Linked DNA regions of Homo sapiens: all the other regions are linked to region 2. The links come from fine-mapping of genetic effects on gene expression. A gene starts in region 2. Each other region holds a variant in brackets. All regions are shown on one strand. Distances are between the middles of the regions. Region 1 has its middle 22 kb from the start of TMED10. Region 2 holds the start of EIF2B2 (eukaryotic translation initiation factor 2B subunit beta). Region 3 overlaps MLH3 (mutL homolog 3).

The links. PIP is the estimated chance that this variant, and not a neighbour inherited with it, causes the effect. A credible set is the group of variants that fine-mapping cannot tell apart.
Region 1: its variant is the best candidate, but not a certain one, in a credible set for the expression of EIF2B2 in putamen (GTEx, PIP 0.55).
Region 3: its variant is the best candidate, but not a certain one, in a credible set for the expression of EIF2B2 in whole blood (INTERVAL, PIP 0.88).

What each region holds. Positions count from the first base shown.
Region 1 is chr14:75,193,372-75,204,076 of GRCh38, forward strand. It overlaps the pseudogene RNU4ATAC14P. Among named protein-coding and RNA genes, the nearest start is that of TMED10, 22 kb to the left of the region's middle. The variant T/C (reference allele first, on the strand shown) is at 6,583.
Region 2 is chr14:74,996,638-75,007,342 of GRCh38, forward strand. It overlaps EIF2B2 (eukaryotic translation initiation factor 2B subunit beta), which reads left to right and starts at 6,284. Exons shown (of 8, transcript NM_014239.4): 1 at 6,284-6,516; 2 at 6,638-6,758; 3 at 6,914-7,062; 4 at 8,100-8,263; 5 at 9,229-9,324; 6 at 9,940-10,077. The coding sequence starts at 6,354. RefSeq lists enhancers at 5,831-5,920, 5,962-6,642.
Region 3 is chr14:75,019,280-75,029,984 of GRCh38, forward strand. It overlaps MLH3 (mutL homolog 3), which reads right to left. Exons shown (of 13, transcript NM_001040108.2): 10 at 3,716-3,739; 11 at 3,535-3,613. It also overlaps the pseudogene RNU6-689P. Among named protein-coding and RNA genes, the nearest start is that of EIF2B2, 22 kb to the left of the region's middle. The variant C/T (reference allele first, on the strand shown) is at 3,650.

The DNA.
Region 1 (10,705 bases), 200 kb after region 2:
AGGGCCCAATCCCCACCCCAGTGTGCCTAGAAGGGTGGGACATGGAGTCAAAGAAGATTATTCTGGAGCTTTAAGACTTAATGTTATGGCCAGGTGCAGTGGCTCATGCCTGTAATCCCAGCACTTTGGGAGGCTGAGGTGGAGGATCACTTGAGCCCAGGAGTTGGAGACCAGCCTGGGCAACACAGAGAGACTCTATATCTGCAAAAAAAAAAAAAAAAAAAAAAAAAAAAAAAAAAATTAGCTAGGTGTGATGTTGCATTCCTGTGGTCTCAACTACTCAGGGGGCTGTGGTGGGGGATTGCCGAGGCTGGGATGTCAAGGCTGCAGTGAGCCATGATTTTGCCACTGCACTCCAGCCTGGGTGACAGAGTAAGACTCTGTCTCAAAAAGAGAGGGAAAGAAAAAAGACTTAATGTTGTTTTCCCTTTTTCCTTGTTGGGTCTTGGATTTACTTGGGACCAATTACACATTTCTTCTTAAATTTCTCCCTTTTGGAATGGGAACGTCTATCCTATGCCTACCCACTATTGTATTTTAGAAGTACATAAACTTGTTAATTTCACAGGCTCTCAACTGGAGAGGAATGTGCTTTGGGATGAATTATACCTTGAATCTCGCCCCTATCTAATTCAGATGAAACTTTGGACTTTTGAGTTGGTGCTAGAATGAGTTAAGACTTTTGGGACAATTGGGATGGAGTGAATGCATCTTGTATGTAAGAAGGACATGAGGTTTGTGTGGCCAGGGGTAGAATTCTATGGTTTGAATGTCCCCTCCAAAACTCATGTTGAAATGTAATTGCCACTACGATGACGGTGTTAAGAGATGGAATTGTTAAGAGGTGATTGGGCCATGAGAGCTCTGCCCTAATGAGTAGATTAATGTCATTATCATAGGAGTAAGACTGGTATTGTGAGAGTGGGTTGTTATAAAAATGAGTTTGGCCCTCTGTGTCTCTTGCTCTCACCCTCTCTTGCCATTCTGCCTTCCACCATGAGATGACGCAGCATGAAGACCCTTGCTAGAGGCTGGGGCCATGCTCTTGGACTTCCCAGCCTCCATAATTGTAAGTCAAATACATTTCTATTCATTATGAATTATCCAGTCTGTGGCGTTTTGTTATGGCAACACAAAATGGACAAAGACACAACCAAATCCAAGCTCTACTATCCATTAACTGCGTGACTTCAGGATAGTTACCTGGACTCTCTGCATCTCTGCTTCCTCATGTAAATGAAGATAATTATAGTGCCTACTTCATAAGTTTGTGGGGAGGATTAAATGAAATAAAGCATGTAAAGTGCTTAGAACAATGTCTTTTTTTTTTTTTTGAGACAGGGTATCGCTCTGTCATGCAGGCTGGAGTGCAGTGGTGTGATCATAGTTCACTGTAGACTTGACTTCCCAGGCTCAAGAGATCCTCAGCCTCCCAAGCAGCTGGGACTACAGGTGCACATCACCATACCTGGCTAATTTTTAGAGATTTTTGTAGAGACGAGGTCTCACTGTGTTGGCCAGGCAGGTCTCAAACTCCTGGGCTCAAGTGATTCTCCTGCTTCAGCCTCCCAAGTGCTGGCATTACAGTGCTGGAATAATTTCCACTCTTCCCAACTTCTTAGAACAGTATCTATCACATGGTATACACTTAGTAAATGTAAGCTGTCATGAAACAGAACAGGCTGGCAATGGCTTATTTTTAAAAAAACTATTGTTATTATTATCATTATTTTTGAGACAGAGTCTCACTCTGTCACCCACGCTGGAGTGCAGTGGTGTGATCTTGGCTCACTGCAAACTCTGCCTCCTGGGTTCAAGCCATTCTCCTGCCCCAGCCTCCCAAGTAGCTGGGACTACAGGTGTGTGCCTCCATACCTGGCTAATTTTTCTATTTTTCGTAGAGATGAGGTTTCACTGTATTGGCCAGGCTGGTCTCAAACTCTTGACCTCATGATCCACCCACCTCAGCCTCCCAAAGTGCTGGGATTATAGGCATTTATTATTATTATAGGTGGCTATTATTATTAATATTATTATTAACTATATTTCTGGATCCCTCTCTTCCAGGAACATATGCTGATCTTTCCACCATCATTAATTATTATTAATGTTGTTTGGACCTTTTTTTCTTCCAGGCCCTGCGCCAAACTCAGGTCAAGCTTTATCTCATTTCATCCTTATAACAAGGGTATAAGTCATGTAATATTATTATCTCCCATTTCATTTATAGGGAAATTGAGGGTCAGACAGGTTAAGTAACTTGCTCGAAGTCCTATAGCCAGTGAAGGGCAAGGCAGGGACGTGAAATATCAGCTTGGGCCCCAACTTTATGGCTATTCTGCATTTCTACTTGACCCCGAAGACATTCCCCCTGTGGTCATCAGGCCCACCATCCCCTTGAACCAACTCCCTAAACCTCCCATCACATAGCTTCCTTACATCAAGTTCCATCTTTTCTGGGCGGGGCGTGGTGGCTCGCGCCTATAATCCCAGCACTTTGGGAGGCCGAGGCAGGCAGATCACTTGAGGCAGGCAGGTCAGGAGTTCAAGACCAGCCTGGGCAACATGGTGAAACTCCTTCTCTACTATAAATACAAAAATTAGCTGAGTGTGGTGGTGTGCACCTGTGGTGCCAGCTACTGCGGAGGCTGAGGTGGGAGAATCGCTTGAACCCAGGAGGTGGAGGTTGCAGTGAGCTGGGATCACACCACTGCACTCCAGCCTGGGTGACAGAGCGAGATGCCATCTCAAAAAAAAAAAAAAGTTTTATCTGATCCCTTCAAACTATGCCTTTCTGTTGCATTCTTGGTCTGGGCCTTCCGAGAAAATGTCCTTTTCTCAGAGGTGATGAATCAGGCCACATTCCTCCTCCACCTTCCTGAGAAGCTCTCTCAAATGCTACCTCTGTTCCCAGGGTCTCCCAAACCCAAATGCCGCCTGGCCCAGCATCCCCATTCAGAGTCCTCTCCTCACACACAGCCACTCTGGCTGGCTTCCCCCACAGCCCCCAGGTGACCCTGTGTCCATTGAGAGGCTGCCTCCCTCTCACTCCCCTGTGTCTCTGTTGCTCCTTCTAGTGGAAGAACCTGAAGGTCTTGATGCCGGGGAGCTGGCAATCAGTCAACCCTCAGGATGTCCCTCCTATCCTCCACTATATCCAGGGTCTCTTGGGCACCACAGTTCTTCCCTTAGCCCTGTTAGGGCAGGCGTCTCGCACTGCCCCCCTCTGCTGCCCACCTCCCACTCTCACCACTGGCCCAGGGCATGGGGTGTACCATCAGGCACATAGGCCTTATCACTGTGCAAACACTTCCTCTTTCCCCAGTGCTGGTTCTCACACAATTGGTAATCAGTGTAAACTTCCTCTGACAATTTACTGAGCAAACATTTACCATACAACTGCCCTATGTAGGGCTCTGTGCTAAGGCCCATGGGGAACCCAAGCCTGGTCTCCACCTTGGGGCATCTCGAGTCTGGTAGAGATGAGGCACATGAGGCGTCTCAGATGCCGCGGGTCTTGCGGACCAGAGCACCGCGGACTGGAATCCCATTTCTGCTCTCTACTCCCTGTCTTACCTTGGAGCAAGTGACATCCTTTCTGATCTTGAATTTCCTTAGCTGTGAAATGGGAGTAATGCTGTCTAGGTTTGTTGTGAGGACTAACTAAGATCCCTAGAGGGCCTGGCAGAGCACCTGAGATAAGGACATTCCACAGTCCCTGTGGTGCCACCTTTCAGATATGAATTGAGGGGTCCCTATATACTACAGGGTCAGCCAATCATCTAGTCAACAAGAACACATTCAAAACGGAAGTGTTGGGTAAGTGGGGAACACACATGAACATAACACACATACACATAAGGGTATAAACATAACCCTTTAGTTTAGCGGGAGTGGGTGGTGGTAGGAGTTAGTGTTTTTTTAATTAAAAAAAAATTTTATAGGAATGAGGTCTCACTGTGTTGCCCAGGCTGGTCTCAAATTCCTGGACTCAAGCAATCCTCCCACCTTGGCCTCCCAAAGTGCTAGGAGGGGGTTAGTTTTAATATACCCATATGCAACAGCAAGAGATTATTATGGGATAAGTCTGTTTCCTAGGTAAATGCTTATCCTGTGGGCACAGCCTGTGAAGGAGATATCTCTGTAGGCCTGCGGGAGTTGGGAAATTTCTCAGTGTTGAGGAGTCAGCACACAAAATCAGAGGAACGCAGGCAAAGCAGTCATCAGCATATCAAGGCACAGGGGAGTGATGGCTTCCCTTCTTCACTCCTACATCAAAACAGGCAACCTAAATGGACCTTTTTTTTTTTTTTTTTTTTTTTTTAATGTGGTGACGGAGTCTTGCCCTGTCGCCCAGGCTGGAGTGCAGTGGCGTGATCTTGGCTCACTGCAACCTCTGCCTCCCAGGCTCAAGCAATTCTCCTGCCTCAGCCTCCCAAGTAGTCAGGACTACAGGCACACACCACCACGTCTGGCTAATTTTTGTATTTTTAGTAGAGACGGGGTTTCACCATGTTGGCCAGACTGGTCTCGAATTCCTGACCTCAGGTGATCCGCCCGCCTCGGCCTCCCAAAATGCTGGAATTATAGGCGTCAGCCACTGCGCCCTGCTAATGGACAACCTTTAAACCTACATGTTTGGCTATTTCTTAGTATTTTAGGGTTGCTTCGTGCTCTGGCCTGGGTTTGCAGGAAAAATGGGAGAGAAGAGGAGAAAAGGGCTGGAAGAGGCTTGGCCATGGTAGAAGGCATGGGTGGGTGTGAGGAGAAGGAAACAGAGTGATGGGCCAGCAAGGAGTCACAGGGTTTCGGGATCTGGGCTAGCGACCCTCCTGGCCTCCAATGGGCTAACACGGAAAAGAGGGATGCTGATACTCCTGGTGTTGGAGGAAGATTCTGGGGAAAGACACCAAGAGGAAGCACAGGGCAGCTACAGATGCATCCATGGACCGAGCATGAGCTTTGGTGTGAAGCCAACCTCGGTTTCCATGGGGCCTCAGCACTGACTAACTGTGTGACCTTGGTCAAGTTACTTTACCTCTTTGAACCTCAGTTCCCTAATCTCCAAGTGAGAATAACAACATCTGTTTCATAGCTCTTTTGCGAGGACTGTAAATTGTATAGCACAGAGCCTGCCAGAATGTAGGCGACCAAGTTCCCTTCCCCCTTCTCAAGCTTCCAGGAGTGCCCCAGAAATACAAGACTGGCTATATTTAGTGTCTGGCTCCCTCCCCCGACAACCCATGGTTAAATTAGAATGAAACTATTTATGCTAAAGTCTCTGAAGTTCTAAAATTCTCTGGCAATGTGAGTAGACTGGGTGGGAGAAGACAGCAGTTCACCTCCTGGGGACATGGCGGCTGCTGCTGTGAGGCTGTACTCTCTGAGCAGCACACGCCAGTCTTCCTGGGTACCAGCCTGGCAGACGGCCAGGCAGCGGGGCAGACGGCATGCCCAGAAGCCTGGCAGCTCCTCCCTTCCCCATTCATGTTCCCTGAGTCCGGGTTCCCTCAGTCCCCTTGGCCAAGGTTTGCCTTGGGTGATGGTAGGGGTGGAAGGAAAGGCTGGCCCCACAGGAGTGTGTGTGCAGGGAAGGTACCCCAGAGGCCGATTTCAGCCCATTCTAGGAAAGGATGTTGTAGTAACAAATGTTTCATGCTGGAAAGGTGTCTGAGGCAGCAGCCAGAGCTTGGGCCCTGAAGAATTTACCCAGATACTATGGTTTTCCACCTGGACGCCCATAAAATATCCCAAGAGTTTTGTAAAGATACTGTTAGCCTGGTCCCCATCTACAAGATTCTGATTCCATTGGTTCACAGTGGCTGGAATTTTGTTAACAGTGCCCTAGGTGCCTGCATTGTGCAGAGGTGGATGAGGACCAGTGTTCCCAAGGCATTCCCATGTCTCTGGACCAGAGCTCCTTCTATCTCCAAGTGTCTGCATGTCTGGTATGAAGTATGTGTTGTAATCACTTGAACTTGCTTCCATCCTGGCCCCTTGCCATTTACCCTTTGAAACACAGCAACCAGAATGAGGCCTTTAAACATAAACCGGCTGGGCATGGTGGCTCATGCCTGTAATCCCAGCACTTTGGGAGGCTGAGTCGGGCAGATCACTTGAGCCCAGGAGTTTGAGACCAGCCTGGCCAACATGATGAAACCCCATCTCTACTAAAAATACAAAAATTACACATGTGGTCCCAGCTACTCAGGAGGCTGAGATGGGAGAATCGCTTGAACCTGGGACGCAGAGGTTGCAGTAAGCCAAGATCGTGCCACTGCATTCCAGCCTGGGTGACAGAGCGAGACTCCAACTCAAACAAAACAAAACAAAACAAAACATAAATCAGATCCCATCCCTTTCCCACTTCAGTATCTCCAGTATGTCCCATTTCAATCCCAACTCCTCACCAGGGGCAGTAGGACGCTCTGGGATCTGGCTCTTCCCCTACCTTCCTCTCAGCCCTGACACCACTAGAATCTTCCTTTTTTGTTGTTGTTGTTGATTCGGGGTTTTGTTCTTGTCGTTCAGCCTGCAGTGCAGTGGCACGATCTCGGCTCACTGCAACCTCCACCTCCCAGG[T/C]TCAAGCAATCCTCCTGCTTCAGCCTCCCGAGTAGCTGGGATTACAGGCGCCTGCCACCACACCTGGCTAATGTTTTTTTGTTTGTTTGTTTGTTTTGTTTTGTTTTTGAGACACAGTCTCGCTCTGTTGCCCAGGCTGGAGTGCAGTGGTGCGATCTCCGCTCACTGTAAGCTCTGCCTTCCCGGTTCACGCCATTCTCCTGCCTCAACCTCCCAAGTAGCTGGGACTACAGGCACGCATCACCACATCTGGCTAATTTTTGTATTTTTAGTAGAGATGGGGTTTCACCACATTGGCCAGGCTGGTCTCGAACTCCTGACCTCGTGATCCACCCACCTCTGCCTCCCAAAGTGCTGGGATTACAGGTGTGAGCCACTGCACCCGGCAGATTTTTATATTTTTTAGTGAGATGGGGTTTCACCATGTTGGCCAGGCTGGTCTTGAACTCCTGACCTCAGGTGATCCACCTGCCTTGGCTTCCCAAAGTGCTGGGATTATAGATGTGAGTCACCGCACCCGGCCACCACTAGCACCTTCCTGTTCCTCACACTCACCAAGCTGGTCCTGCCCTAGAGCCTTTGCACTTGCTGTGCCCTGTGGTTGGTGCTCTTCCCCAGCCTAGTTCATGGCTGGCTCCTCCTCATCCTACAGGTCTCAGAGGTCCCCTCTTCAGAGAGCTTTCCCTCACCTGCCTAGTCCACGTGGCACTCCTTTCCCTTCCTGTCCCTCCCTATCATTATCACCTACAATACTCCCCACTAGGAAGCAAGTTCCATGAGAACAGGGAACTTGTCTAACTGGTTTGTCACAGTGCCTGGCACGGATGAATTCTTAATAACTAGTTGTTGAACAAATAAGTGGAAATGGACATAGCATGCTTATGTATTAAATTATGTGTTTTCATGTACACAGACATATAGGTATACCTGCAGATAATGTGATCAGAGGTCTGGGGTAGAAATGGACAGATGGTGCCAGAGAAGAGGGCACCAAAGGAGAAGGGAAAGGAATAATGATTGAGCCTCGACTCAGTGCCAGGCACTATTCTAGAGTTTTTTATACATTTAATCTTCACAACAACACATTGGGCACTGTAAACAAAATTCCAAGGATTCAAGCCACCATGGACCAAAGGAATCAGAATCTTGAGGATGGGGCCAGCATTATTGTCCTCATTCTATAGATTAAAAAAACTGAGACTTAGAGAGAGGAAATAACTTGCCCGAAGTTAATCTACCAACAAGTGCCAGAGCAGGATATAAACCCGAGTTTATTGGACTCCAACACAGTCTTGCTCATTGCATCATTCTTGAAGGAGAAATTACCTCACTCATTACCTCTCTCCATTATCAGGGAATAAAAAAACTCTGGTGAATGCGGCCCCAGATAGCAATGGCTAATTGGTGACTGGAGCTAATAACATTGGCCGAGCGAGCAGGGCAGATAAGGAAGGGAAAGAAAATCCACTAATAGCCTTGCCATCTATCTGGAAACAACCTTGTTTCTTAATTTTATTTGTGTTGTTACGAATTTGCACTCCTTTCCTTTTGCAGAATGTATACATATATTCCACTTGATTTAAATTCCCAGGATACAACAACCCAGAGGGATTTGGCCTCATTAAGAGTCAGTGGGCTAGTTTGTTTGGGCCCTCTATCTTAAACTTCCAAATCTAATTTCCAACCAAAGGAATAGGATATGCTCTTTTTAAAGTTATTTATTTATTTTTTTTTTGAGACGAAGTCTTGCTCTGTTGTCCAGGCTGGAATGCAGTGGCGTGATCTTGGCTCACTGCAACCTCTGCCTCCCAGGTTTAAGTGATTGTCTCACCTCAGCCTCCCAAGTAACTGGAATTACAGGCATGCACCACCACATCTGGCTAGTTTATATATTTTTAGTAGAGATGGGGTTTCACCATGTTGGCCAGGCTGGCCTCAAACTCCTGACCTCAGGAGTTCCATCCACCTCGGCCTCCCAAAGTGCTGGGATTACAGGTGTGATCCACCGTGCCTGGCCTAGAATATACTCTTTAGAATACTCTTTTTAAAATACCTCCAGAACTTAGTTTATATCCAGGTTGTCTGTAATCCTAGTCTCTGGAAAGTACTTCTGTTTTTTATGTTTATTTTTGCTTTTTTTTTTTTGGTATGTGTTAGCAGTACTGCCCTCACTATGCGCTCGTTGGACAGTAGCACAAACCCAAGAAAAGAATGATGATTTGGCAGTCATTTCTAAATAGCAGAACACCTTTTCTTATTTTAGAATATGTAGGGCCAGGCATGGGGCCTCACACCTATAATCCCAGCACTTTGGGAGGCTGAAGTGGGAGGATTGCTTGAGCCCAGGAGTTCAAGACCAGCCTGGGCAAGATGGCAAGACTACGCATCTCTACAATAAATAAATAAATACATAAATAAAATATCAGAGCTAGTTCTCAATTAAATCTGATCAAAACATAGCATGCCATCTAGCACAGGACCTCAAGGCCTTATAGACATGAGTTATATATCCTCCTTGCTTATAAAATGCAGACTGTCTAATTGCTGGCTCACAGAAGATCACATAGGGGCTTAAAGCTTAGTTAGGGCAGAGCCGTCATGTGAGACATAAACAGAATGGGGAGAATCTGTAATATAGGGTGAGAACTTTGTAAGCTTCATGCTATGGACAATGGAGAAGTATATCAGGGCTCTGCAGTTTCAGGAGATAAGAACGAATTCTGAGTTAACAGGAAAAAAAAAGCCATCTGAAGGAAGGATATTGGGGAGTTTATAGAATTGAAGGAAAATCTGACCAGGCAAGAGGGGATCTCCTGGGGATTAACTCATGATTCAACTTCAAACTTCCCATCCCTGAATCTCTGTTCAAAATTCAAATGCCCAGGTGAGTCTGAATGGCTTAGCTTAGGTCATGTGCCCCCTTCATGGGACCTGGGATTGGCTGACCTCCAGAATTCTGCACAACAGAGAAAAGGAGACAAATTCCAAAGGAACAGATGCTGGCCAGACAGACGAGACATGTCTGCTCTAGTAGCCACTGGACATTGCTTTCTCTTTTTCCTTTGTTTTTCTTTTTTTTCTTTTTTAAATGGAGTTTTTTTTTTTTTTTTTGAGACGGAGTCTCGCTCTGTCACCCAGGCTGGAGTGCAGTGGCGTGATCTCGGCTCACTGCAAGCTCCACCTCCCAGGTTCACACCATTCTCCTGCCTCAGCCTCCCAAGTAGCTGGGACTACAGGTGCCCGCCACCACGCCCGGCTAATTTTTTCATATTTTTAGTAGAGACGGGGTTTCACCATGTTAGCCAGGATGATCTCGATCTCCTGATCTCGTGATCCGCCCGCCTTGGCCTCCCAAAGTGCTGGGATTACAGGTGTGAGCCACCGCGCCCGGCCAAAAAAAAAAAAGAAAAAAAAAGAGAGGGCCAGCCGTGGTGGCTCATGCCTGTAATCCCAGCATTTTGGGAGGCTGAGGGGGGCAGATCACTTGAGGTCAAGAGTTCGAAACCAGCTGGGCCAACATGGTGAAACCCCGTCTCTACTAAAAATACAAAAATTAGCTGGGCCTGGTAGCACGTGCCTGCAGTCCTAGCTACTTGGGAAGCTGAGACAGGAGAATCACTTGAACCTGGGAGGTGGAAGTCACAGTGAGCTGAGACCACGTCATTGCACTCCAGTCTGGGTGACAAGAGCAAAACTCCGTCTAAAAAAAAAAAAGAAAGAAAGAGAGAGAGAGAGACAGAGACAGAGAGAGGCAGGAGATGTGTTAGAAAGCTATTAGATGTCAACCATTGTGGAAGGAATGAACCAGGCTGGGCTGGCGGAGAATGGAACGAAGTAACCAGATATGAGGCACAAGGGCTCAAAAAGTAGTTTGTAAACTCGATTGAGCCATCTGGGGCAGTTGGGACCCCAGGAGTTCATCTCCAGCCTACACCAGAATCCTCTCTGGGAAGTGACTGGGAATCTACAATTTTAAAACACACAGCCATCCTCCATAGAAGACACTGGTCTGTGTAGATGGGCATTTGGAAACCATTGATCTATTAGACCGTTTTTTCTAAATGTCCTCTAGTCCAGTGTCTCATCTTATCTCTTTGCTCTTGCAGTTAAGCATTATCAAAGC
Region 2 (10,705 bases):
AATCCAAGTATTTTGGGAGGCTGAGACAGGATCACTTGAGGCCAGGAGTTCAAGACCAGCCCAGAAACATAGTGAAACCTTGTCTCTACAAAAAATAAAAAAATTCGCTGGGCATGGTGGCACACACCTAGAGTCCCAGCTACATGGGAGGCTGAGGCAGGAGGATTGCTTGAGCCCAGGAGGTCAAGGCTGTAGTGAGCCAAGATTGCACCATTGCATTCCAGCTTGAGCAACAGAATGAGACCCTGTCACTAGAAAATAAAATAAAATATTGGCCAGGCATGGTGGCTCACGCCTGTAATTCCAGCACTTTGGGAGGCTGGAGTGGATGGATCATACTGCGATTTTGCCATTGCACTCCAGCCTGGGCAAGAGAGTGAGACTCCATCTCAAAAAATAATAATAATAAAAAATAGGCCAGGTGCAGTGGCTCACACCTGTAATCCCAGCACTTTGGGAGGCCAAGGAGGGCAGATCATGAGGTCAGGAGATGAAGACCATCCTGGCCAACATGGTGAAACCCCATCTCTACTAAAAATACAAAAATTAGCTGGGTGCGGTGGCACATGCCTGTAATCCCAGCTACTCGGGAGGCTGAGGCAGGAGAATTGCTTGAACCAGGGAGTCGGAGGCTGCAGTGAGCCAAGATCACGCCACTGCACTCCAGCCTGGCGACAGATCAAGACTCTGTCTCAAAAAATAAATAAATAAATACAATAATAATAATAAAATAAAATATAAAATAAAAATGCAAAGGCTCAAAACTAGTTAAGTAATTTTTAAAGAAAAGAATTAAGCAAGAAAAAATTTCTTACCAGAGATAAAAACTTTTCAATAAAACAATAGTTGCTGGGTGCAGTGGCTCATGCCTATAATCCCAGCATTTTGGGAGGCCAAGGGGGGTGGATAGCTTGATCCCAGAAGTTCAAGACCAGCCTGGGCAACCTGGCAAAACCTAATCTCTACAAAAAATACAAAAGGCTTGTGTCTGTAAATCCCAATTACTGGGGAGGCTGAGGTGGGAGGATCAATCACCTGAGCCTGGGAGGTCAAGGCTTCAGTGAGCTGTGATGGCGCCACTGCACTCCAGCCTGGGCAATAGAGTGAGGCCCTATCTTAAAAAAAAAAAAAAAAAAGACAATTGTTAAGATAATATCATATTGATTCAGAAATAGGCAAATTCAGCAATGAAACCAAATAGCCACCAAACAGACTCACATATTATAGAAACTTGACATATGACAGTGGTGACATTAAAAATCACTGGAGAAAGAATGGAAAAATAAAATTGGATTCACACCTCTCACCTTACATAAAAAGCAATTCCAAATTATATGTAATTCCAATTCCAATTATATGTAAAGATAAATGTTTTAGTAATCAGAAGAAAATATAGGAGATTATATTTATAATTGTGGATTAGGGAAGAATGTCTTCTGTTTTTTTGTTTGTTTGTTTGTTTGTTTTCAGACAAGGACTCACTCTGCCACTCAGGCTGGAGAGCAGTAGTATGATCACGGCTCACTTCAGCCTTGACTTCCCAGGCTCAAGAGATCCTCCCACTTCAGCATCCCAAGTAGCTGGGACCAGAGGTGTGAGCCACCATTCCTGGCTAATTAAAAAAAAATTTTTTTTTGTAGAGACAAGGTCTTGCTCTGTTACCCAGGTTGGTCTCAAGCTTTGGAGCTCAAGTGATCTTCCCACCTTGGCCTCCCAAAGTATTGGGATTACAGGCGTGAGCCACTGCACCTGGATGGATTTTTAAATTTTTTTATTTTTTTGAGTTGAAGTCTCACTCTGTTGCTTAGGCTGGATTGCAGTGGTGCTATCACAGCTCACTGCAAATTCAAACTCCTAGGCTCAAGCAAACCTCTCACCTCTGCCTCCCAAGTAGCTGGCACTACAGGCACATAGTAGCTGCCACTGTACTTGGCTAATTTAAAAAATTTCTTGTAGAGATGGCATCATGCTATTTTTCCCAGACTTGTCTAGAACTCCTCGCTTCAAGTGATCCTCCTACCTTGGCCTCCCAAATTGTTGGGATTATAGGTATGTAATCCCAACACCTGGCAAATCCACTGCACTTGGCTGAATTTCTGAAATAAGACAGAAAAGGCATTATGTAAAAAAGACAAGGTTGATACATTTTAACACATTAAAATCAAGAATTCTGTTCAAAGACATCTCAAAGTAAAGAAGACAAGCCATAATTGGGAGAAGACACTTATTTATATAATAAATAATTGAAAGAAGATTAGTATCTAGAATATAAAAAGAACTCTTACAAATCTACTTGGAAAAATTTTTAAGCCAAAAACAGTAGGTAAAAGGCACAACAAACAATTCACAAAAAACTCATGGCCAACAAACACATGAAAATATGAACAGTAATCAGGAAAATGCAAATTAAGACCACAGTAAAATATACTTTTATACCTACCTGATTCCCAAATAATAAGATGTTTGGTAATAACACATGTCAGTAAGGATGTAGGTCAGCTGAAAGTCTTTAAATATTGCTGGAGGGAGCATACATTAATTGAACCACTTTGTACTACTAGATCTATTTGTAAAGTTGAACATTCGTATAGCCTCTGATCTAGCTGTTCCACTTATATAAGTGCCAAGACATACACAGGACTATTTATAGTTTATGTTCACCCACCCCCCTAAAAAGATTGGAAACAACCCAAATATCTGTTGAAAAAAATGAATACATAAATTATGCTACAGTCACATGAAATATTAGTGCAAATAAGAGAACTACAAGTTCTTACCAGTACAAATTCACCAGTGCAAATAAGAGAATAACAAGTACATGTAACAACATGGATAAATTTTATGAATGTCATATTGAGCAGAAAAAAGTGAAATATACCACATATTTCCTAAATTGTAAAATAACACGGAACATAAATTTTACCATCTTAACCTTTTTAAGTGTACAGTTTAGTGAAACTAAACTGGCATGAAGTACATTCACATTGTTGTGAAATATAAATGCACAACCAGGCCGGGTGCAGTGGCTCACGCCTGTAATCCCAGCACTTTGGGAGGCCGAGGCAGGCGGATCACGAGGTCAGATAGAGACCATCCTGGCTAACATGGTGAAACCCCGTCTCTACTAAAAATACAAAAAAATTAGCCGGGCGTGGTGGCAGGCACCTGTAGTCCCAGCTACTGGGGAGGCTGAGGCAGGAGAATGGCGTGAACCTGGGAGGCGGAGCTTGCAGTGAGCTGAGATCGTGCCACTGCACTCCAGCCTGGGTGACAGAGTGAGACCCTGTCTCAAAAAATAAATAAATAAATAAATAAATAAATGCACAACCATTATCCACCATCTATCTCTAGAACTCTTCTCAACTTGCAAAACTAAAACTCTGTAGCCATTAAACAGCAACTCTCTCCCTCCCCTCAGACCCTGGCAATCACAGTTCTACTTTCTTTCTTTCCTTTATCTTTTTTGAGACAGGGTCTTGCCCTGCTGCCCAAGCTGGGGTGCAGTGGCAGGATCATAGCTCACTGCAGGATCATACATAGCTCACTGCAGCCTCGACCTCCCAGGCTCAAGAGATCCTCCCCCCTCAGCCTCCCAAGTAGTTGGGACTACAGACATGCATTACCACACCTAGCTAATTTTTAAATTTTTTGTACAGCTGGGGGTCTTGATATGTTGCCAGGGCTGGTTTCAACTCTTGGGCTCAAGCCATCCTCCCACCTTGTCCTCCCAAAGTGCTGGGATTCGGGTGTGAGCTACTGTGCCTGGCCAACACAGCTTTGCTTTCTATCTCTATTAATTCGAATATTTTAGTTTCAAAGTGAGGGATTGGTTCACATTCCTCAACCTGTTTGTCGTCATGCTTTATAACTTGCATACACACACATATAAATTCTTTAGTATATATAAAATACTATATACCTTGTTTTTTTTGTTGCTGTTGTTGTTGTTTGTTTTTGAGACACAGTCTTGCTCTGTCACCCAGGCTGGAGTGCAGTGACACAATCTCAGCTCACTGCAACCTCCACCTCCCAGGTTCAAGCTATTCTCCTGCCTCAGCCTCCCTAGTAGCTGGGACTACAGACATATGCCACCACCCCCCACTAATTTTTGTATTTTCAGTAGAGACAGGGTTTACCCACGTTGGCCAGGCTGGTCCCAAACTCCTGACTTTCAGGTGATCTGCCCACCTTGGCCTCCCCAAGTGCTGGGATTACAGGCATGAGCCACTATGCCTGGCCTATATACCTTATTTTCTTAATGACTTGATATATGAAAAAATAACGACAATATCCAAAATTGGCTATAATATGGTAAATGCTAGCCAGCATGTAAATTGATACAATTTTAAAGACATTTAAAAATTAACACACAATTAGCCAGGCATGGTGGTGTGTGCCTGTAGTCCCAGCTACTCAAAAGGCTGAGGTGGGAGGATTATTTGAGCCAGGGGAGGTTGAGGCTGCAGTGAGCAGTGAGCATGCCACTGCACTCCAGCCTGGGCAACAGTGTGAGACCCTGTCTCAAAATAAACAAACAAATCAATAAATAAAAACTAAAACACAGCAAAATTGACACATATTTTATGGCTTTTTAGAGCAACTGTATTTTCAACTTCAATTTCTGATGCTCATTGCTAATACATAGAAATATAGTTTTTGTATCCTTGCTAAACTTATGTTCTAGGAGGTTTTGTTTTTGTTGCTGTTGACTCTGGGATTTTCTGTGTACACTATCATGTCTTCTGTGAACAGGGACAGTTTCTTTCCATTCTGTATGCTTTTTCTTTTTCTTGCCTTATTGCAAGGGCTAGGACTTCACGTATAATTTAAATAGGAGTGGTGAAAGTAGACATCCTTGCCTTGTCCTGATCTTAGGGAGAAAGCAATCTTTTACTGTGAAGTATGATTTTTAGGTGTAGGATTTTGTAGATACCCTTTATCGAGTTCAGGAAGTTCCCTTTTGTTCTAGTTTTCTGAGAGTTTGTACCATGAATATTGAATTTTGTCAAATGTTTCTTCCTGCATCAATTGACATGATCATGTGGTTTTACTTCTCAGATTGTTAATATGGCATATTACATTGATTTTTAAGTGTTTAATCAGCTTTGCATTCCAGGTTTATGTTTCACTTTGTAATTACATATTATTCTTTTTTTATGTATTGCAGGATTTGATGTGCTAATAATTTGTTGCAATTTTTGCTTCTATGTTCATGAGAGATATTAATCTGTAATTTTCTTTTCTTTGTACTACCTTTGGCTAACTTTGGTATTGACATAATCTTTTTGGAGGGCAATTTGTTAATTGTAACAAAAGTCTAAAATGTGCTCGCCTATGGATTCCACTTTGAAGAATTTATCTTAAGGAAATAGAGATTTCTATTACACACATACTTTGGGTTCAGGTAGACCTGGATTTAAGTATGAACCCAATCCTTTATTAACTGCTTAAATTCTGTGGGTCTGTTTCCCAATCTGTAAAATGGGGATAAGAGGACCTATTTCAGACCTTATTAACTGAGACAATTCACACACAGTGCCCAAGAACCAGTAAGCTTTAAGTAAATGGTAACTCTTGGTATTATGTTATACTCTCTGGCCTCTCTGTAGGAGGACAATTCTGTCCAAATCAGAGGATGTCATCTTTGCTTCTGTATTGGCTCCCACTTTGAATCTCCTTAATCTTCCTCATCTCTAATTTCGCCGTCTTCTGTTAGACGTGTTAGGCCTTGAGAATACAAAAGCAACAAAAGATATCGTCCTTGTTTTCAGAGACATGAACCTCCTAGACACAGGCGCAAACGGTACCAAGCAATGTAACAGAACAAAAGTGAGACGTCTGCCCAAGGGGCAGCCGACCCTGGACATGCATTCAGAGCGTCAGTGTCAGCTGACACTCGGGAGTGACAGCTCGGGCAGTCACCGAGCTGGGAAGACAGGAGGGAGTGCCGCAACTTCTTCAGTGTAGCCTTAAGTCGCGGTGAGGGGCGCGTAGAGACTTGCTGCTCCCATAGCAACGGGACCAGCCACCCTCTACAGGCCTGACGGGTTACTTCCGTTCACCGTCGGCTGAGCCAAGAAAGGCCGCTTCCGATCCTCCAGCCCCCGAGGCGCGGGGGCGCGCGGACGCCCGGTTATAACTGAACAACCCGAGCCCCACGTCTCTGATTGGCTCAGGCAGAGGAAGGGGGCGGGAGATCGGCAACGAAGGGCGTAGCCGGCTTCCACTCAAACTTGAGGTTTCCCCCCATCCCCTCACAGCGGAAGCCGACCTCGCCCGCCCCGGAAGTGCAAACTGTGTGGTCTGGCAGGTGTGGATTCCGCCGGTGAAGGCTGAAGGCAGCTACCTTAAAGATGCCGGGATCCGCAGCGAAGGGCTCGGAGTTGTCAGAGAGGATCGAGAGCTTCGTGGAGACCCTGAAGCGGGGTGGTGGGCCGCGCAGCTCCGAGGAAATGGCTCGGGAGACCCTAGGGTTGCTGCGCCAGATCATCACGGACCACCGCTGGAGCAACGCGGGTGAGGCCGGCCTGCCTCCGCCGGCGAACCTGGCCCCTGTCTGTTCCCGATCCCAGGGCTGAAAATTTCCCAGGCCTCACTTCGCGTTGGCTCCTCTTATCCTCTCTCTTTTGGACTGTAGGGGAGCTGATGGAGCTGATCCGCAGAGAGGGCAGGAGGATGACGGCCGCTCAGCCCTCCGAGACCACCGTGGGCAACATGGTGCGGAGAGTGCTCAAGATTATCCGGGAGGAGTATGGCAGGTCAGGCTCACGTCCTGGGCTCCTGGTTGGATCCAGTGACACTTTTTGCACGGGCCCCTCTACCTGCTCGGAGACTTTATTGGAGCTGAACAGCCCTTGTTACCTGCCTGACCACTCCTCCCCACCTCTCTCTTTGGGTCTTGTTGCCTCTATAGACTCCATGGACGCAGCGACGAGAGTGATCAGCAGGAGTCCCTGCACAAACTGTTGACATCCGGAGGCCTAAACGAGGATTTCAGCTTCCATTATGCCCAACTCCAGTCCAACATCATTGAGGCGATTAATGAGCTGCTAGTGGAGCTGGGTAAGAGGCCTGATCGCTGGGAAAATGGGACTGGTCACAGGCACATAAGGGAACAGAAGCCTCTGAAGGTTGTTCATTAGCAGAGATGGGAGATTAGCTGTCTTCTGGTTCTCAGAGGTTTGTCCTCCTTCCTGATTAGGAAATGTTGCAACAGGTGACAGGACCAAAGTAATCCTCTCTACTTTTCCTTACAGACCAACCCTTGATAGACTACAGATCTGTGGAGTGGAACAGACTCTATTAGGACAGAGTTTTATTTTCATTGTAAAGAAACAAAATGAACTCCCTAGAGAGCCAAGGTCGATAGACCTCCTTCACTATCTGAATTTTTATACACACGTACACGTATACCATTTCTATCCCCCTTGTCATTGCGGTCCAAGTGACTTGCAGATATTCATTGTAATCAGAGGATGAAGAAGCTGCTTCCAAATTGCTCCCCCATTTTTTCTTCTCTGGCCAGTCTCTCTCATGTAGAAGTGTTGTGGCCACCTTTTGGAGGAAGACTTCTTTTAGGCCGAAGCTCTCTTTACCCTATTCTCAGCACTTTAGGATTTCCCAGATTGCCATTCCTTGGCTGAATCTACTGTCTTCAAAATCAGTTGTAAGGAGCTCTGTAGTGACAGAGGTGGTTCATAGGTAGGGGTACTTCTGGAAGAGGGCAGGCAGAAAATCCCAGAGGAGTGGGGCTTTTAAGAAATTGTGACATAGCTGGGCATGGTGGCTCACACCTGTAATCCCACAACTTTGGGAGGCCAAGGTGAGTGGATTGCTTGAGACCAGGAGTTCAAAACCAGCCTGGGCAACATAGTGGGACCCTGTCTCTATTAAAAAAAAAGAAATTGTGACATTTCACTTTAAGCACATTAACCCTGTGGTACCAGGGTCTGCTAGGTGGGCAGTGCATGTGAAGGGCAGACATCTTTTTCCGTATACGCGTAATGTGTGTTTGTGATATAGCAATTTCATATATATATATATATATATATATTTTTTTTTTTTTTTTTTTTTTTTTTTTTGCAAAACCGTTCTTACAGAAGGGACAATGGAGAACATTGCAGCCCAGGCTCTGGAGCACATTCACTCCAATGAGGTGATCATGACCATTGGCTTCTCCCGAACAGTAGAGGCCTTCCTCAAAGAGGCTGCCCGAAAGAGGAAATTCCATGTCATTGTAGCAGAGTGTGCTCCTTTCTGCCAGGTAAGGAGACTGCTGGAGTTGCTACTAAGAAAAATGAAAAATGAAGAAGAAATAAACGAGAGATGGGTAGGGCCATTCCAACCTTGAATTGATAAGCAAGACTTTGAGACACTGAGAAGATCAAGTAAAACATTAAGTGAATTTTCAAGGTGTTCGTCCTGTGAACATTCATAAATAGTGGTTTAAGAAAGTTGGGGCCGGGAGCGATGGCTCATGCCTGTAATCCCAGCACTTTGGGAGGCTGGGCGGGTGGATTACCTGAGGTCAGGAGTTCGAGAGCAGCCTGGCCAACATGACAAAACCCCGTCTCCACTAAAAATACAAAAATTAGCTGGGCGTGGTGGCACATGCCTGTAATCCCAGCTACTCTGGAGGGTGAGGCAGGAGAATTGCTTGAACCTGGAAGGCAGAGGTTGCAATGAGCCAAGATAGCGCCACTGCACTCCAGCCTGGACGACAGAGCAAGACTCTGTCTCAAAAAAAAAAAAAAAGATGGCGAGCTGCTGGGTTCAAGGAAAGATAACTTGATTCTTTTAGGAATCAAAGCAGGGTAAATTACCTTGGGGATGACTAATGCTTGGTCTGACCTCACTTGATCCTAAGTAAATAATAGGTCTCAAAAAGGAAATATGTAAGGATGCAGGTTGTTTTAAAATAATGAGCCAGGAGCTATCTTGTCAGCAATCGTGATTATATTATACATGCATGTTGTATTTCCAGTTTTATGGCTGCTCTGGTGCTGCTGTGGAGCATTAGACATTTATTAGCTTCCCCTGGGCTTCCCTACAGCTTACCAGAGCTATGAGAGTCTGAAAAATCAGTTGTCCGAAAAATGAGTTATCTATTGGAAATTATGTGCTGGATATGCCCATATCACACAATTCCCCAGATCCAGTTACATTTGAGAGCACTTTTCACTATTTCTCACTCTTTCTCTTAGAATCAGCCTTTCCCTCCCATTGCAGGGTCATGAAATGGCTGTGAATTTGTCCAAAGCAGGTATTGAGACAACTGTCATGACTGATGCTGCCATTTTTGCCGTTATGTCAAGAGTCAACAAGGTGGGTATATCTGGAGTTATGTTGAATTCATGAAGATTATGTTTCTAAAATATTGATTTTTATCTCCTCCTGTAATATCCACGGTGAGAGAATAAAGTTTCTAGCACCTTTCAAAGTACATACTTAGGCCTTTTTAATCTGTTAACTGAATTTCTTTTCCCTTTTTTCTGCATCATTGTTCCTCTCTTGGAGTAGCCTCTAAATTTGGTTGAAGCATTGAAAAGAATGAAGTATTAAATAGAACTAAGGCAAGAGTGTCAGTTTCTAGGGATTGGCTACAGGGCTCCTGCCTTATGCTCAAAGAGCTTGGCAGTTGTGGATAGTGAATGAAAAAGATTCCTGGCTTCTCAGAAGGTATGGCATCTCAATTTCCAGAAAATATGGGACTGAGAGCAGTAGGTTTTGCAGTTTCTTGTCCCATTTTACATTCATTCTTTCCTTGGAAACCTACTTTTAAGCTAGAACTTGTATTGAGCCAGGGATCCCTTCACCTCTACCAGTCTGTGACCCCTCACGATACCAATTCTGAGGTCTAAGCATTTAGCTTTTTGTGGCCAGTGGCCCTTTTAGGGCTCCACCCCCAGGATGGCTCACATTTTTTGTCTTGTCCCAAAGGTGATCATTGGCACGAAGACCATCCTGGCCAATGGGGCCCTGAGAGCTGTGACAGGAACTCACACTCTGGCACTGGCAGCAAAACACCATTCCACCCCACTCATCGTCTGTGCACCTATGTTCAAACTTTCTCCACAGGTAAGTGTGTCTGTCTCTAGCTAGAAGCCAGCAGAAAAGAAGGAAGCCAAAGGGTAGGCTTGAACTCTGGGACTTCAACCACCTCACTCCAGGGCCTCCATTTATCTGCATTTACTCAATGGATTACACCCAGTGGAGGCTGGAAAGAACCACAGAAGTCTTGATTCAGTAAAACAGTTGAGAGTTCTCAGCTGTCAACTTTAGGAAGTCAAGATTGTAAGGACAATATGTAGTTGGGAAAGGTCCTTTGCTTACGATTGCCACCACTCCCTGTCGCCTGACCATTTCTGAAAATGCCAAGCAGGTTGAAAGTAGGATCATAGAATCAGTTTTGTTATTGTTGCAGGGCCTGTCCTTTGTAACCTGAATACAAGCAAGGACTAAGTGAAGAGCCATTTCATCAGTGATAGAAGCTATTTGCTTTGAAAACATCAACCTATTTATAGGTCTCTATTTTTTAAATTGAGGTGAAATTCACATAACATACAATTAACCATTTTAAAGTATACAATTTAGTGATATCTAGTACATTCACAGCATTGTACAACCACCACTCTCTAGTTTCAAAACTTTTTCTCCACTGTAGAAAAACACCCTGTACCCATTAAGTAATCTCTCCCTATTTGTC
Region 3 (10,705 bases), 23 kb after region 2:
CGCGCCTATAGTCCCAGCTACTTGGGAGGCTGAGGCAGAAGAATCACTTGAACCCAGGAGGCGGGGGTTGCAGTGAGCCGAGATCACGCCACTGCACTCCAGCCTGGGCAACAAAGCGAGACTCCGTTCTCAAAAAAAAAAAAAAAAAAAAAAAAAGAGGGAAATAAATTAGTGCTTATGACCATGGATGAAACTAAGGCTTCAGGACTGACCTTCTGTCTCTCAGCTTTTTCTTACGGAGTATTTGTATTTCTAATCTCTGTAGGAGGCATTCCTTAACTTGTTAGGATCTGGCTTTCAGAGTTTTTCTCCAAGAGGCAAGAGCAGTATTTTTGCCTACTCTTTATGGGTTTGTGAAGTTGGGGTTATCTTTCTCCATGGATCGTCCAATAGCAATCTCTGATTGTTTCCTTACAATGTTCATTTTATTTGCTTCTTTTTTTCTAATTTCCATAATAATCTTCCTAATCTAAACTCTCATATTGTTATAACCTGCCTTTATGCACAATTTACCCAGTCAACAAATATTTATTAAGTATATACTTTGTATTGGGAGCTTTGTCAGGCAGTTAGTGAGACAGATAATTTCCATCCTCATGGCGCTTATGGTCTAATAGGGGAGACAAACATGAAGCAGATAATTATACAATAATTTAAATGATAAATATAGGTGCTATAAAATACAGGATATGAATATATAATAGGAAGACCAAACCCAGTTTAGGAGCTTAAGGAAGGCTTTCCTGGCAAAGTAGTATTCAAGCTGAGACTTTAGGTTAAGAAAGACGTGGCTAATTGAAGAAGGAGAGAAAAGTGTTTCAGGTAGAGGAGAAGGCCAGTGCAGAGGCCCCGACGCTGACAAATGTTTAGCACACAGGAAGCAGAAGACCAAAAAAGCAGGCTGGGATGTAAAGAACAAGGTGGAGAGTGATATGACGTGACACTGGAGAGGCAGGCAGGGGCCAAATCACGAAGACCCTTGTGGGCCACAGTAAAAAATCACATTTCTATCCCAAGAGCAATGGGTCATCATTGACACATTTTAGTTAGAAGAACAACATGCTTGGAGGGATGTTTCAAAAAGATTCCTCTGGGTGCTGAGAGAAGAGCAGCTTGAAAGGGAGCCAGAGTGGATGTGAAGAACTAAGTAAGAGAGCTCAACAGTGGCAAAAATGAGGGAGGAGCCAGACAGACTGAATCAGACGGACCGAAGATACATTTTGAAGGTGGCAATGATGACATTTGGTGATAGAGGAGTATGAGTCTGTTCTCACACTGCCATGAAGAAATGACCAAGACTCGGTCATTTATAAAGGAAAGACCATTTAAATGACTCACAGTTCTGCATGGCTGGGGAGGCCTCAGAAAACTTACAATTATGGCGGAAGGTGAAGGAGAAGCAGGCACCTTCCTCACAGGGCCTCACCCAGCTCCCCATTTTCTATATTGTATCATATTACCCTGCTCAAGAACCCTCAATGGTGTTCGCTTTGGCAGCACATATAATAAAATTGGAGTGATACGGAGAAGATTAGCATGGTCCGTGCACAAGGATGACATGCAAATTCATGAAGCATTCCATCTTCATTATTATTATTATTATTATTATTATTTTGAGATGGAGTCTCACTCTGTCACCCAGGCTGGAGTGCAGTGGCGTGATATTGGCTCACTGCAACCTCTACCTCCTGGTTTCAAGTGATTCTCCTGCCTCAGCCTCCTGAGTAGCTGGGATTACAGGTGCCCGCCACCACGCCTGGCTAATTTTTATGTTTTTAGTAGAGATGGGGTTTCACCATGTTGGCCAGGCTGGTCTCGAACTCCTGACCTCAGGTGATCCATCCGCCTTGGTCTCCCAAAGTGCTGGGATTACAGGCGTAAGCAACCGCGCCTGGGCGCATTCCATCTTTTTACAAAAACCCTAGAAGAAAACCTCAGAAATACCATTCTGGACGTAGGCCTTGGCAAAGATTTCCTGGTAAAGACTCTAAAAGCAACTGCAATAAAACGAAAATTGACAAGTGAGACTTAATTAAACTAAAGAGCTTCTCCACAGCAAAAGAAACTATCAACAGAATAGACGGACAACTTACAGAATGGGAGAAAATATTTGCAAACTGCATCCAACAGAGGTCTAATATCCAGAATCTATATAAGGAACTAATATCCAGAATCTATAAGGAACTTAAATAAATTAACAAGCAAAAACCAAAAAACCCTATTAAAAAATGGGCAAAGGACATGAACACACACTTCTCAAAAGAAGACATACACATGGCCAACAAGCATATAAAAAATGTTCAATGTCACTAATCATTAGAGAAATGCAAATCAAAATCACAGTGACATACCATCTCACACCAGTCAGAATGGCTGGTATTAAAAAGTTAAAAAATAACAGATGCTGGTGAGGCTGCAAAGAAAACAGAACACTTATACACTGCTGGTGGGAAATATAAATTAGTTCAGCCACTGTGGAAAACAGTTTAGAGATTTCTTAAAGAACTTAAAGCAAAACTACCATTCAACCCAGTAATCCTATTACTGGGAATATGCCCAAAGAAACAGAAATCATTCTACCATAAAGACACATGCATGTGTTATGCTCACTGCAGCACTATTTACAATAGCAAAGACATGGAATCAACCTCAATGCTCATCAATGGTGGATTGGATAAAGAAAATGTGGTACATATACATCATGGAATACTATGTCGCCATAAAAAAGAACGAGATCACATCCTTTGCAAAAACATAGAGCTAGAGGCCATCATCCTAAGTGAATTAGAAAACCAAATACTGCATGTTCTTACTTAAAAGTGGGAGCCAAACATTGAATACACATAGAAACAAAGAAGGGGTAACAGACACCTGGGCCTACTTGAGGGTGGAGGGTGGGAGGTGGGTGAGGATCAGAACTACCTATTGGGTACTATGCTCATTACCTGGGTGACAAAATAATCTGTACACCAAACCCCTGCGACATGCAACTCACCCATGTTACAAAGTGCACATGTACCCCCTGAACCTAAAATGAAAGTTGGAAAGATAAAAAAAGAACGCTTGCTAATTCTAATGCCTTCTGTATCAAATCCAAAGGTTTTGCTGTGACCTTCTAGGTTTCTGTTCTCTTACCTGCCTAGTTTCTTGATACTCTTTGCTGCTTCTCATATAACTAACTTGTTTCTGTTCTGCCTCTCTGCACAGGCTGTTTACTCTCCCTATAGTGAATTCCCCTTTCCATGCTATGAACCCATGTTCCCCAGCTCATTCAAAATTCATCTCAAAATGCATCTCCTCTAGGAGTTATTCCTCCACTCATATAGGTCAGGCAGCACTATAGTCAAATTTTTGTGTTGGGATTTTGTTTTTGTAAAAGTGATTTTTAAAAGGGTATATTCAGTTTCTTGATCTAAATTGTATTCTCCAAGAGTCAAGTAGTAAATGTACCCTCTGCCTCTTTTGTAATCCCGGCAGCCCTGCCAGGGCTCTGCATGCAGAGGTGTTTGATCACTGCTATGTTGAAGGGCTTACCATGGCAGGCTTGGGATGCCAACACCTTCTGGACAGTCAGTGGCAATGTCCCTTGGATGCCTCCGGTGGTCTGGAGTAGCTAATGCATAAACACGTTATTAACAGGAAAAGAAAA[C/T]GGAACAACGAAGCCTTTTATGTGTGGTGCTTCTGTGTGAAACCCCAAAATAAAGGAAAAGCTTACCTCCAGTTGTTCTCGGATAAATTCCTGCAAAGCAAAAGGAAAATCGGCTTTAATCTACGGTTATGTTTTACTTGCCCTTTGATAGTTTACAAAATATCTCAATTTTCTTCTTTAAATCATGCCTCCTGAAAGAAAGAGTTCCAGCAATACAGCACTTGGGTACAAATTTATTTGTTGTAAGGCACTTTGAATATGAAAAAACCAAGCAACTGAATAGAACTCTTATTGAACACAGAATATATTTAGCTACTGAGACTTCCTCCAGAGATAGCTTCTCAACTAATGAGGTTATGTAGCTGGTGAGAGTAGCCTTGATGATTCAACCAATTCAAAACATCAGGAAGGCTTCTCACTAAAAGGCTGTCTGTTTGTGTGTGTAATCTTAGCCAGAACAAGCGTAATATTACACACAAACTGAGAATAAATACACAACAACCATCAACACAACCACTGCTCAGTATAACACTTGCTTAAATATCATAAACATAAGTAAACAGTCACTTTAGTTCCCACGGGCTTTTTGGGGACAATTCCCTTCAGGTCAGAAAGTTTATTTTCTGAGGCCCTTTGTTGAGAAATTTCTCCTCCCTTGCATGTCTCTGTCCCTGGGGTAACCTTTTCAATAGTTATATCCCTGTGGATATTAATATTTACAAAAGAAGCTTAAAGAAATTTAAAGCAGACACTATTTCATGCTACCAATTTGTTTAACCTCTGGAGGTAAAAAGAAAAAAACCTGTTGCACATTTAATGATTTCTTTATAAGAAAATCATTTCTTTACTCCTGGAAAAGGCTATGTGTAAATCTGCTCCTAAGATTACAACATGGTACCTTTTCTTTTAAAACCAGACTCAGGAAATTCTCTTCCCTCCTTCATCTATACTCTAGTCTGCCATGCCTATAAATGGGCACAGTTATCAAGAGCTAGGTAGTAGATACTATATTACATATAATTTAAAAATCACATGTTTTCCCAAACAAACCTAAACAGAAAGATGGTCTCATAAGACTCAATCCACTGACAAAGCTTAGTGTGGATGGAGAGCAAACATTCTTGTGTTTGTACATCTGGGATGGTAAAACATCTGTTTGTAAGCTTAGTGAAGGGGTGATGGGTCTCATCTCAGTCCATTTTATATTCCAATGGTCTGTTTAATGCTGGATAATTTAATATTTTTATTTTATTTTTTATTTATTTATTTAGTTAGTTAGTTACTTATTTTGAGATGGAGTTTCACTCTTGTTGCCCAGGCTGGAGTGCAATGGCACGATCTTGGCTCACCGCAACCTCTGCCTTCTGGGTTCAAGCGATTCTCCTGCCTCAGCCTCCTGAGTAGCTGGGATTACAATCATGCACCACCACGCCTGGCTAATTTTGTATCTTTAGTAGAGACAGGGTTTCTCCATGTTGGTCAGGCTGGTCTCGAACTCCCGACCTCAGATGATCCGCCTGCCTCGGCCTCCCAAAGTGCTGGGATTACAGTTGTGAGCCACTGCACCTGGCCGTATTTATTTATTATTTTTAATTTTTTGAGACGTAGTCTCGTTGTTGCCCAGGCTGGAGTGCCATGGCGCGATCTCAGCTCACTGCAGCCTCCACCTCCTCACCAGGCTAGAAGATAGAGCTTTATAGAAGGATGTATTAATGATCTTTCAACTGCTAGGATTCAAATAGCTACCTCCTCAAAACACCAAAACTGTTCCAGCTTCTTCCAGAATCACACAAAGTCTCTCCTGATCAGCCTGACATAGGATAATCAAGATTTTATGAAACCAGAGGTTTGTTTCCATTTGAAGCAAACTCCTTAACAGTAGTCTTTTAAGTTCCTTCAGGAAAAGTTTTTCTTATAATTTTCTGGTTACATATTAGGGATTGAATTACAATAAAAGACTCTAACAGATCCTATCTTTTGGATTTAGGACAATTTGGAGCAGGGGTCTTAGAGAAAGCATGTCTGTGGGGAGGAAAGAGCTTTGCTGGAAGCAGAGCAAATCTTTGGATCTGTCTGATCCAAAGGCGATTCTGGAAAGGGCAAAGCCAAGATGACCCAAGAGCTGACTGACAGCTGCTCTTCCTCTTGAATGTTTCCCCCTTGGCCTGCAAACCTGCTTACGTCTTTTTTGTCTTAAAGCAAACAAACACCTTTCCTCAGCCTTGAATCCCACCCCACACTTCCCAACCACTTCTAACCTTTAGCTCTCACCCCATCTCTCTTCTTCTGTGTGTAGCCAAAGTTCCTGAAAGAGTTGTCTACTTAGCTTCACTTCCTCCTGCTTCACGCACTCCTGACTCACTGCACTCTTATCTTCTGCCCCACCTCATCCCCAGGAAATGATTCCACAAGACAACTAATGTCCTCATGACAGTCAAGTCCAGCGTTTCAGGCTCTACTTCATAGCCGTTATTGACCATTCCCTCCTTGCTTAAAACTTTCCTTAGTTTTGGCAATATTGCTTTTTCCTGGTTTTCCTCCTCCCTCTCTAACCAAGTATTTTCAGCCATCCTTAGAATTTCCTCTTTTCAGCAGAGCTTTCCAGACCTTTTCCAAAGCATACGCACCCTGGATGCTGATGTTCCACAGGCTCCACTCTTTTGTCTCTTCCTTTTCACTCTCCATATTCTCCCTGGACAACCTCACTTCCTCAAGGCCCTTCTCCAGCTTCTGATACTATCAATATATATATACTGTTAACTCTCAGATAGATATGTACAGCCCAGATTTATTTTCCAAGTACCAGATCTTTTAAGTGTGCCTATCCACTGGGCATTCCACCTGCAGGCACATTCACTGTGTCTAAACCCACCTTCACGATGGAACTCCTAGGCAGGTTTGTTCCTCCTCATCTGTGTCCCTTCTCTGTCAATGGCACCACCATCCTTCCAGCCATCCATGCTACAACCCTCAGAATCACTGTTGCTTTTGTTTTCTCCTTTATTCCTTTCACGTTTGATTGCTCACCAAGTCCTCTTGCTTCTGCCTCCCAAATTCTGTCTCAGATATGTCACTCCTCTCTACTCCCTCTGCTACTGACTCAGTCCAATCCTCATCTTCTCTTACCTTAACCACTGCAATAACCCGTCAGCTGCTCTCCCTGACTCAAATCTTCCCACATAAATCCATCCCCCAATTTATCTACTACATCTATCCTCTAATTTTAGATTTTACTATTTTAGATATTACTAAAGCACTTCAGACTTCTAGATGAGGTGGGTGTGGATTTGCCTGTGCTCCAAATCAAGAAAGCTACTGATAAAGGAGAAGGAACAATCATGAAAAAAGCAGGACACCATAAAAAAGGAAGAGTGAGATTTGGGGAAAAAAACACAACTTCTGGAAATAAAAAATATAGCCATTGAAATAAAAAATTTAGTCACTGAAATAAAAAACTCAGTGGATAAGCTAAACACATAATTAAACAGAAGATGAAGAGATACTTTAGTTCACTGGAAGATAAGTGAGGAGATTTCACAGAATGTATCACAGAGAGAAAGCAATGGGAAATATGGAAGAGAGTTGAAGAGGCATGCAGAGTAGAAAGATAAGGCCCAGTAGATATCTGACAAAATTTCCAAGAGACAAGAGAGAGAATGGGAAAGAAACGTTTGAGGTGATAATGACTGCATACTTTCCAAACTGAAGAAGCATAGTGAATCTCCAGAAGGAAATGAAAATAAATCCATACAAAGATACATCATAGGGAAATTGCAGAACACCAAAGACAAAGTGAACCATCGTAAAAGCAACCAGAGGGAAAATCAGATTACCTACAGAGTAATAATTGGATTGACTAAGGACTTCAATGGCTAAAACAGAAAGTCAGGCTGGGTGCAGTGGCTCACACCTGTAATCCCAGCACTTTGGGAGGCCACGGCAGGCAGATCACCTGAGGTCAGGAGTTTGAGACCAGCCTGGCCAACATGGTGAAACCCCATCTCTGCTAAAGATACAAAAATTAGCTGGGTGTGGTGGTGGGCACCTGTAATCCCAGCTACTTTGTAGGCTTAGGCAGGAGAATCGCTTGAACCTGGGAGGCGGAGGTTGCAGTGAGCTGAGATCATCCCATTGCACTCCAGCCTGGGTAACAGAGTGAGACTCTGTCTCAAAAAATGAAATAAAATAAAATAAAATAGAAAGTCAAAAGTAGTGAAATATTTTCAAAATGCGGGGGGGATAACTGGCAATGTGAAATTCTGTTTTTAGCTAGATAATCATGCAAGTATGAAGACAAAATAAAGATACTTTAAAAGACAGCTTATCATTCACGGACTTTTTTTTTTTTGAGACAGAGTTTCACTCTTGTCACCCAGGCTGGGGTGCAATGGCGTGATCTCAGCTCATTGCAACTTCCGCCTCCCGGGTTCAAGTGATTCTCCTGCCTCAGCCTCCCGAGTAGCTGGAATTACAAGTACCTGCCACCATGCCCAGCTAATTTTTGTATTTTTGGTAGAGACAGGGTTTCACCACGTTGGCCAGGCTGGTCTCAAAACTCCTGACCTCAGGTGATCTGCCCGCCTTGGCCTCCCAAAGTGCTGGGATTACAGGCATGAGCCACCATGCCTGGCCCACGGACTCTTACTAAAATAACTTCTATTTATTTTTATATTTTTGTATTTTTTGTCTCAAGATCTGTTTGTGGATAAAAGATCTTGTAAGAGATTTACTTCAGTAAAAAAAAAAAAAAAAAAAAAAAAAAAAAACCCAAAAGAACACAGAATAAGTAGGATGCAAGAGGCAATGGTGAACAAAGACTCTGGTGAACACTTTTTTTAATCTAAATAAAGATTGACTATAAAATAAATGACCACCAGGGAATTAAAAACAAGGTGGAATTAAAGTACTAGACAGCAACATGGAAGATGGGAGGAGGGTGATGGGAGATGAACAGTTTGTAAGATTTTGGTACAGTTAGGAAGAGGATAGAGAAGTGAATTACTTTTAAACTTTGATAAGTATGCATGCTAAAAGTTAAGGCTAATCTCTAAAAGGATATAAATGGAATATATAACTTCTAAACGAGTAGAGCAAAAAAAAAAAGAGAAATACAGAAAACTATAATAGAAAACAGGAAAGGAGAGGAAAAAGACAATAAAGACAAAATAAATGATATTTGCTATAAAAAAAGAAACATATAAGTAATCAAAATAAAAAGTAATAGTTCTCTCTAATACCTCCAATGCCACAGCCCAGCAGTAGCTTTCCAAACCTTTACCAAAACATATATGTAAAGTAATCATATTTGGAATGCAATCTAAAATGGACCTTACTCTCCTGCTTAAAAGTTTTCACTGGCTGCCTATAGGATAAAATGCAAACTACTTAGTAGAATATGCTAAATTATTTTATGATTTGACCTTGACAACCCATCTAGCCAACTCCCATCCAGTCAAAGATCCAAGTATAACTTCTGATTTCCCCCCAATTTTTTTTTTTTTTTTTTTGAGACGGAGTCTTACTGTGTCACTCAGGCTGGAGTGCAGTGCAGTGATCTTGGATCACTGCAACCTCCACCTTCCGGGTTCAAGCAATTCTCATGCCTCAGCCTCCCAAGTAGCTGGGATTACAGGCACATACCATCATGCCTGGCTAATTTTTTAATTTTTAGTAGAGACGGGGTCTCATCATGTTGGCCAGGCTGGTCTTGAACTCCAGACCTCAAATGATCCGCCCGCCTTGGCCTCCCAAAATGCTGGGATTACAGGCGTGAGCCACTGCACCTGGCCTGATTTCCCCAAATCTTAACTACCAATAGCCTAACGTTGATCAGAAGCATTACCAATAATATAAACAGTTGATTAACACATATTTTGTGTGTTGTATATATTACACACTGTATTCTTACAATTAAGTAAGCTAGAGAAAAGAAAATGTTGGCCAGGCGTAGTGGCTCATGCCTGTAATCCCAGCACTTTGGGAGGCCAAGGCAGGTGGATCATTTGAGGTCAGGAGTTCAATACCAGCTTGGCCAACATGGTGAGACCCCATCTCTACTAAAAATACAAAAATTAGCCGGGGCATGGTGGTGTGCGCCTGTAATCCCAGCTACTTGGGAGGCTGAGGTAGGAGAATCGCTTTAACCCGGGAGGTGGAGGTTGCAGTGAGCTGAGATTGTGCCATTGCACTCCAGCCTGGGCATCGCAAAAAAAAAAAAAAAAGAAAGAAAGAAAGAAAGAAAGAAAAAGAAAATGTTAAGAAAATCATAAGAAACAGAAAATATATTTATTATTCATTAAGTGGAAATGAATCATCATAAAGGTCTTCACCCTCATCATTTTCACATTGAATAGGCTAAGGAGGAGGAAGAAGAGGAAAGGTTGGTCTTGCTGTCTCAGGAATGGCAGAGGTGAAAGAAAATCTGCATTTAAGTGTACCTGCGCAGTTCAGACCCAAGTTATCCAAGGATCAACTGTAGATCTTAATTTGAGCCATATCTATTGATAGTTCCCTAAACATAGGATGTATCTCAAGTCTCTGATATGTATTCCTCTGTCTAGAATGCCCTTCTCCCCTCTTCTGTACTCAGCACTTTCCCACTATTCTTTTTTTCTTTTTTTTTTTGAGACAGAGTTTCACTCTTGTTGCCCAGGCTGGAGTACAATGGTGCAATCTTGGCTCAATGCAACCTCCGCCTCCCAGGTTCAAGCCATTCTCCTGCCTCAGCCTCCTGAGTAGCTGGGATTATAGGCATGCACCACCACGCCCGGCTAATTTTCTATTTTTAGTAGAGATGGGGTTTTTCCATGCTTGTCAGGCTGGTCTCGAACTCCCGACCTCAGGTGAACCACCCACCACGGCCTCCCAAAGTGCTGGCATTACAGGTGTGAGCCACCTTGCCCAGCCTAGTTTCCCACTATTCTGTAAGACTTTTCTGGCTGTGTGCAGTGGCTCATGCCTGTAGTGCCGGGGGTTTGGGAAGCCAATGCAAGGGGATTGCTTGAGGCCAGAAGTTCAGGACCAGCCTGGGCAACATAGTGAGGCCCCCATCTCTAC